2 linked regions of the Homo sapiens genome follow. The protein of the gene in region 2 purifies or fractionates together with the protein of the main gene of each other region. This does not show direct contact. Each region holds a gene or a part of one and is shown on either strand. Other genes may lie near its edges.

Region 1 (3,655 bases), on a different chromosome or scaffold from region 2:
CACTGAGCCAGTCTCCCTCTATAAAAGCTGAAAATGCCAAACAACTTAAGCTGAACTTGCACATACTTTAAAATTGGTAACTGGTTAGCAACAACAAATCAAGGAAGGACCTTAGTGTATCCTCTCCAGATGCAGTAGCACATGTGTCAAGATCAAATTCCCAAAGCAGCAGATAGTGTTACAAAGCAGTGTGTCAGTGCTTGGCAACAGTGGCTACAATCTCCTCACCCGACCAGTTATGCAGTATGGTTCCAGGATTTATTCCCAGCCGTGTGGCTCAGACTGATGCTGATTCTCTAGTCCTTTTGGCCATTCTGCAAGCAGCACAATATTCTTCTAATACAATTTATCTTATGCTGAAAACCAGAATCCATCTCTGTTGCTTACGACTAAGAATCCAAACTGATAGACAATTTGGTATTTGGAAGTGGAGTGCTACAAAACAGACCTAGAATGGTGTGTAATTGGCCGGGTGGAAAAGGCAGGATGGAGGGCATTGAGACACAACTGTTTCGGGCTGGGAAACTAGTGACTCTGAGACAGGACACCAAGCTCACACCATCAAGAAATGTACTCTAAAGCTGAGCAGCCTTAGAAAGAGTCTTCTTCCCAGTGCTCATATTAGATGTGGCTGTTGAGGACAAAACACCAGAGAGCCACAGCCACCAGATGAAAAAGCAGCCTACGGATTCCACCAAAGATCTTTTTTTTTTTTAGAGACATTTATTCAGCGTCACAATCAGACTATTACATTTAGCAATCAACAGCATGGGTGCAAAAAAAAAAATCTACATTAAAACACTTTGTTGGAATGCTTTACACTTTCCACAGAACAGAAACTAAAATAACCTGTTATACAATTAGTCACAAATACAGTCCTCGAGTTTTTTGCCCATACACATGAGTATTTGTCTAAAACATGTCTTCTTTGTAGCAGCTAGGCCCTGCCACCACTGTGCTTGGCTGAGTTCACAAATCTGTTGTAACCTGTAGCTTCCCTGTCACTTCTCTGGCTCTCCTCTCCTGCTAAGCTTTGTTTCCTAATTAAAATCTTCTGCCACTGCCATAGCTACTGCTGCTGCTGGAAACGCCATAGCCACCTTGGTTTTGTGGTTTTGCAAAGTATTGGCCTCCACCGCCATAGGGGCCAGAGCTTCTGCCTCCAAAATTTCCTCCCTTCATGGGTCCAAAATTTGAAGACTGATTGTTGTAATTGCCAAAATCATTGTAGCTTCCACCACCTCCAAAATTGCTTCCATCATTACCAAATCCATTATAGCCATCCCCACTGCCACCATATCCACCACCACCACAGCTGCCACCAAAGCCACCACGACCACTGAAGTTTCCTCCACGACCAAAGTTGTCATTCCCACCGAAACCATCTCCACGACCACCACCAAAGTTTCCAGAACCCCTTCGACCTCTTTGGCTGGATGAAGCACTAGCCATCTCTTGCTTTGGCAGGGCTTTTCTAACTTCACAGTTGTGGCCCTTCACAGTATGGTATTTCTGAATGACAATCTTATCCACGGAGTCATGGTCGTCAAAGGTTACAAAGGCAAAGCCCCTTTTCTTGCCACTGCCTCGGTCAGTCATGATTTCAATTACTTCAATTTTTCCATACTGTTCAAAATAATCTCTTAGGTGATGTTCTTCAGTGTCTTCTTTAATGCCACCAACAAATATCTTTTTCACAGTTAAGTGGGCACCTGGTCTTTGAGAATCTTCTCTGGAGACAGCTCTCTTTGGTTCCACAACTCTTCCATCCACCTTGTGTGGCGTTGTATTCATAGCTGCATCCACCTCCTCCACAGTGGCATATGTGACAAACCCAAAGCCCCTGGAGCGCTTGGTGTTTGGATCTCTCATTACCACACAGTCTGTGAGCGTTCCCCATTGCTCAAAATGGCTCCTCAGGCTCTCATCAGTTGTTTCAAAGCTCAACCCTCCAATGAAGAGCTTCCTCAGCTGTTCGGGCTCTTTTGGAGACGCTGACTTAGACATGACGGCAAGGTGAAGAGAGACTTTAACGATGCTTCTTCAGCGGCGTCCACGGGCAGAAAAAGTCCACCAGAGATCTTAGATATGAAGCTGGATAGAGTATTTGGATGAGATTCTGGCTGATTCTCTTTGGGAAATAAATACATTTTTCATATGGGCCTGAACATTTTTTAGTGTATGTACAGGAAGAAAGACAAGTATACATAACAGTAGGATACTTCATTCCTCCCTTCTTCCTTGCTGTGAAGCCCTAATTTTGTTTCTCCAGCACATGACTAAGTCATTTGTGGTAATCCCACATCCCACATTGTTGGGATCACCAACCCCACATTGTTGGCCATATTGGCAAACAATATGGTTTAAGAAGGGGTATATAACTAATCTAGCCAATTGGGCCATGCATGAGGTGTCTGCTCAGGGATTCTGGGAAAGGTCTCCTTATTGATAAACAGAAACACAGAATAAATTACTGCAGCTACCTTTAGCAATAGCCATCCTGGAAGACCAAACCAATATCCCAAGGAAAGTGAAAGCATAAGGATGGAGAAACCTAGTTCATCAGTGATACCAGTGAGCTCCTGAGTTAACCAACCCAGAAGCCTCCAAACTCCTGACTTTTTGTTTTGTATTATTTAATAATTTTGAGTTGGGTTTTTCTGTTTGCTTCTTGCAATTGAAAACATTCTTATTCTAATTGCTATTATGTCTGGGAGTGCAGAATTTGATCATAAGGCTGGTGAGATAAAGAAGAGGTGAGACCACATAGGGCCTCAACTCCATCTGAAAAGATTTAAAAAACCACTGAAGGCTTGACATAATTAGACTGACACTCCTATTGCACTGGGGAGAACAGATTGGAAGCGGACAAGTTGAAAACAGAGAATAAGAACAGTGACCTTTAGACAAAACTTGGGAGAACTCCAATCTTTGAAAAAGTCTCTGGAGCAACCCAAAGGGAACATCAGGAAATTATTTTTTACATGGTAAAAGGGGGAAAATATTACAGAAGCAGGATAGGACAGTTGGGCACTTCAGATTGGGCAAAACTGAAGGCAATAGAGAGTTTAGAGGAAAAGTGAGTTATGAAAGGTTATCAATTGATCAAGAGGTCCAGGAAGAGAAGGAAGGATGGGATTCAGCAATATGGAAATTGGTTACTCTTAGTGACCTTTGTAACAACAAATTCAGGGTAATAAGTCAAATGCAATACTACAGAGGGTTAAAGAATAAATGGAAAGTGAGGAAGGCAGCAAGTTTACAGGTTAAGGACAATGACAACAGCATCACAGGTCCTTCTTTAATAAACAATCTTGAGTCAATGATTTGGTGTGGAGAGGCCAAGTACTGACAGCCATGTCTTATTCAGGAGTTGATGACTAGATTATGTTAGGGCTACAGAGAGTCAAGATGTAATATCGGGACAGATCATGCTGGTCCTTGTAAACCCTGTTCAGAAGTTTGCATATTCCTTGTAAGAAATGATGGTAACTTAAACTAAGGTAGAAACATGAAGACAAATGACAAATTAAAAGCTTTTGAGGAGGTAAATTACCTGGGCTGCATGATTGATTGGACGTGGATATCAGATGTGACTGAGCCATGGAAGTAAATGAGATTGTCAAAGAAGCATGTGCAGTGGGAAGAGAGCCAA
Region 2 (3,912 bases):
TTCTGATTACACGCCCTCTTCAGTAAAAGGCAGAATTCAAGTGTGCACTCACAAAATAGACAGGTGCAGCCACTTACAAATTATATGCTAGACTACTGTACAGATTCATTCCTACACCATACGACTATATTACATTTGCAAAGGATGAGATGAAAAGAAATAGTTACACGATTTCTCCTATTTTCTTTCCACATCCCAAGGGGACCTGTTGGGCAGCCACTTGGTCACACCAACTTTGAGAAGCTGTTCAGTGTGTGTGTGGAGCATGGAGCCAGCCATGGCCACGCTGAGACATGGGTCTGGGAGTGGTGTGAGAACCTGAACCCACCCGCTCCCCTCCAGCCCCTCCAAGACCCCCAGGAGGCATTAGATTTTCATTCCCTCAACAAGGGGGAGACAGTGTCAGAGGCACTGCCTCAGGGTCCCCCAGGCACCTGAACCCTGAGCTCCCAGGAGGGGCCCAGGCTGCAGCTGAGGCTGGCCAGGGTGAGTTCTCCTCGCCTCCCCCGGACCTTAAAGTCGGATTTTAAGAATAAATACATGAACCATAGTGAAAGCGCAGAGCCAACCCTTAGCAATGCTTGGGCAATGGGACATCAAGTCTTGAGCGAGGACAGGGGTCGCCGGGAGCCTGAGTGACATCTCTTCCCAACACTGCCAGGCCCTGTCTGGCCTCAGGCTGTCCCCAGGACTGAGCAGCCGCTGCAGGGCAGGCACCATGGGATTCTCCCCCCACCTCTGGCCCAATCTCACACTGCCCTGGATAGGGCCCACCAGGAGGAAGGATTTGCCTCCCCCAGGCCCGGAATCGGGCCCTTGGTGGCGGCTGAGATGTCCCCAGCAGCCTGCGCCTTCCTCAAGACTTTTTGTCTGCCAGGTCCTGTCTGCCCTATCCGGTGCCTCTCTGGACTTCCTCCGCCACCAGCTGGGCTAGAATTCAGGGCAGCGGCTGGTTCTTGCCTGTCCGTGTCATTCATAAGCCACGGGGGACTTCTGGCCGCCGCCGCCGCGTTCGTGCACCGAGGGCATGGAGGTGCTGGGCGGAAGGAGAGGGGGCGCAGGCCTCTGGCGCCCGAGGTCGGAGGTGCGCTCAAGTTCCGACAGCCGGGGCGGTGGGCGGGCAGGGGGACGACCCCCGTGCTAACCCCCCAGAGCCTGGGCGTCCAGAGCCGTGGGAGTGGCGCCGCGGCCCCCAGCGGCTGGCTCGGGGGCGCGGGGAGAGGCCCGGGCGAGGGGAGCCCAGCTAGGTCCACGGCGGCCGCCGGAGGGGCTCCTGTTCGCCCCCACGGGCGGGCTGGCGGTCGGCCTCGCCGCGAAAGCTCGGGAGTGTTGGACTTTGAGTCAGTTCCCCGCCGCGGGAAGGGTCCGCACGCGCACACTCGCGACGCCGCAAGCACTGGGACCCGGAACCCAGCGCTCCCGGCCCGCGCCCGCCCCAGCGCACTCCTGTGCGGCCCGCGCCGCCCAGCGCCGCGTGACCGCCCATTCCTCCCGGGACCCCCAGCGCCCCGGCCACACCTACCCGAGCCCCGCCCCGCGGTGCAACTCCGCCGTGGCCTGCGGGTGGGCGGGCGGCAGTCGCGTCGCCCCCACCCCGCGCAGCCTTCACCTTGCCGGCATTGGCTCTTACCCACACGGGGCTGGGGGTTTGGAGCGGATTTGTTTTTTTAAACATTTTCCAGCAGACCACATCCCCGCCCCACCGCTGGCTGTCCCCCGCCCCCCGCACATATACCCTGCACACACGCACGCACACACACACACACACCCGGCGCGCACAGACACACGCTCCCTCCCTCCGCGCTCTACCCCTCGCCCGCCCGCCGCGCACGCAGCCGGCCCCGGCTCCCGGCGCCCCGCGCCCCGCGCCCCGCGCCCCGCCACCGCCGCCGCCGAGCAAAGCCGGGCTGGGCTTGGAGCTGCTCATGGAGAAAGTGCCAGGCGAGATGGAGATCGAGCGCAGGGAGCGGAGCGAGGAGCTGTCCGAGGCGGAGAGGAAGGCGGTGCAGGCTATGTGGGCCCGGCTCTATGCCAACTGCGAGGACGTGGGGGTGGCCATCCTGGTGAGGTAGGTGTCGCCCGGCCCGGCCGGGCCCTGGGCAGGGAGGGCGGCAGCGGCTCCGGGCAGAGGAGGGCTGGGCCCGGGTCCGAGCTCCAGCGCCACCTCCCCAGCCGCGAATGGGGCCGGTCCGAGGTCGGCGGAGCAGGCGGCGTGGGGCGCCTTGGGGTGAACGAAGCCTGGGTTGAGCCTTCCCTGGCTCCGGCGCGGTGTTCACCAGGATCTAGGAACCAGATGCAGGAGAGCACCTCGGTCCCCCTCCTCTCCCCGGCCTCAGAACTCCTTGCTCGGCCAGCCACCCCAGACACCCAGCCAAACTGTCAGACACACACATTTTTCTGGCCTTTCAAAGGTAGTATAGCAGGGGCTCCCCATTTTAGAGATGGGAAAACCGAGGCTCAGCCAAGAAGCGGGACAAAGAGGAGCAGAACCCTGTCTCCAGCTCAGCGGCTTGCGGGATTCAAAGCCTCTTGGAAGAACAGAGAGCAAAGAGCAGAGGTTGAGAAAGAGGAGAGCCCGGGGGGTCCAGTGTTCCCAGCTGCCCCCTTCCCGCTGGAGGGCACGGGCCAGCAGGAGCGCCCAGGGCAGGCACAGGTGAGTGGAGAAGCAAACAGTCCCCTAGGATACAATCCCTGCTGAGTTTGGAGGGTGAGGGGAAGAAGAGAGAAGCTTCAGGAGACAGGGCCTAACCCTAAAACCTCCCACCTAGGGAGGAAATGCAGTGGCTTGGGCTTAGGGGTCATTCAGGCACTACATGCCCCCAAGAGACCCACAAACACAGAGCGCCCCGTTCTTCACACACCTAGGCTTAGAGCACACACACCATCCTTATAGAGGTGATGTGTCCAAGTCTCGAAAGCTAGTCACTGACTCTAGCTACAAATCCATGCTCTCTTTCCACACGTGCTGGTCCCTGGGGGTGCAGGCAGAGGAGCCCCAGACCATGCTCACCCTCAAGCCCCTCTTCTTGGCAGAGGAAAGCGGTCAAATCTAGGACAGAGCAGGGCAGCCTTGTCATGTGCAGATGGGGTGAAGCCTCGCTCTGGAAGGGCAGCTTTAGTGCATCCTTGACTACCAGGCCTGCTCCATCTCCAGCTTCTTCTCCCTGTGGCCTCTCCCAAGCCTGGGACCGACCCAGCTCCACCATGATATGCCCTGATTCCAACTCAGAAGCAGATTTTGGAGGAAAAAGAGCAGGAAGCACTTCTAAGGAGTTAGAGGAGCGCTCCTGAGGATGGGGCAGCTATCTCAGCAGCCCCCAAGCCCAGAAACACAGTCGGGAGTGGCAGGAAGCTAAGAGGGACATTGGGATACTAGGGCCTCAGACGCTCGGAACCACCAATCCCCACAGGTGCTGGCACCCACACAAGCACATTGTGGGTAGCAGAGCCGCAGATGTGCCAGACTGCGTCCTCGGAGGGTGCCGTCAGCCGTGTGTCAGCACCTGCAGCCCACCGGCCTTGCATGCGTCTGGCACACTCATGGGTCACCATGAAGAAGCGAGGCAGGGTCCTCAGGACCTTGGAGGTTTTGTGTCCCAACCCCTGCCAGGTACCTGTGCGGATACGTGGAGGAAGTGCTCACCGTCCACATCATGGAACACCATTGAACCTCCCCAGGAAGGGGACCAGGGTAGGGCAGATGCCAAGGGAGAAACGAAACACCGAGGCCAGGGCCATGTCTGGGCAGTCCGAGTTTTCAGCAAGGATTTCTTTCTCTCTCTACACCCCTCTTCCAGTTCCCCACTCCTGTCTCTTAGAGGGGCCTGGGCCTGGGCTGGGGGAGGTCATTACCAATGCACTCAGTGCCCAGAGTAACCCCTCACCACTCTGACTCCACTTCTTTGTGGACTA

What was found.
Region 1: the proteins of CYGB (region 2) and HNRNPA1L2 purify together in Homo sapiens (affinity purification with mass spectrometry; one large-scale study listed by BioGRID and IntAct). This does not show direct contact.

The regions. Positions count from the first base shown.
Region 1 is NC_000013.11:52,640,845-52,644,499, reverse strand, and holds HNRNPA1L2 (heterogeneous nuclear ribonucleoprotein A1-like 2), read right to left. Parts: upstream 2,070-3,655; 5' UTR 2,008-2,069; coding exon 1,045-2,007; 3' UTR 727-1,044; downstream 1-726. UniProt on the Homo sapiens protein: Involved in the packaging of pre-mRNA into hnRNP particles, transport of poly(A) mRNA from the nucleus to the cytoplasm and may modulate splice site selection.
Region 2 is NC_000017.11:76,535,556-76,539,467, reverse strand, and holds the start of CYGB (cytoglobin), read left to right. Parts: upstream 1-1,758; 5' UTR 1,759-1,925; coding exon 1,926-2,068; intron 2,069-3,912. UniProt on the Homo sapiens protein: Probable multifunctional globin with a hexacoordinated heme iron required for the catalysis of various reactions depending on redox condition of the cell as well as oxygen availability.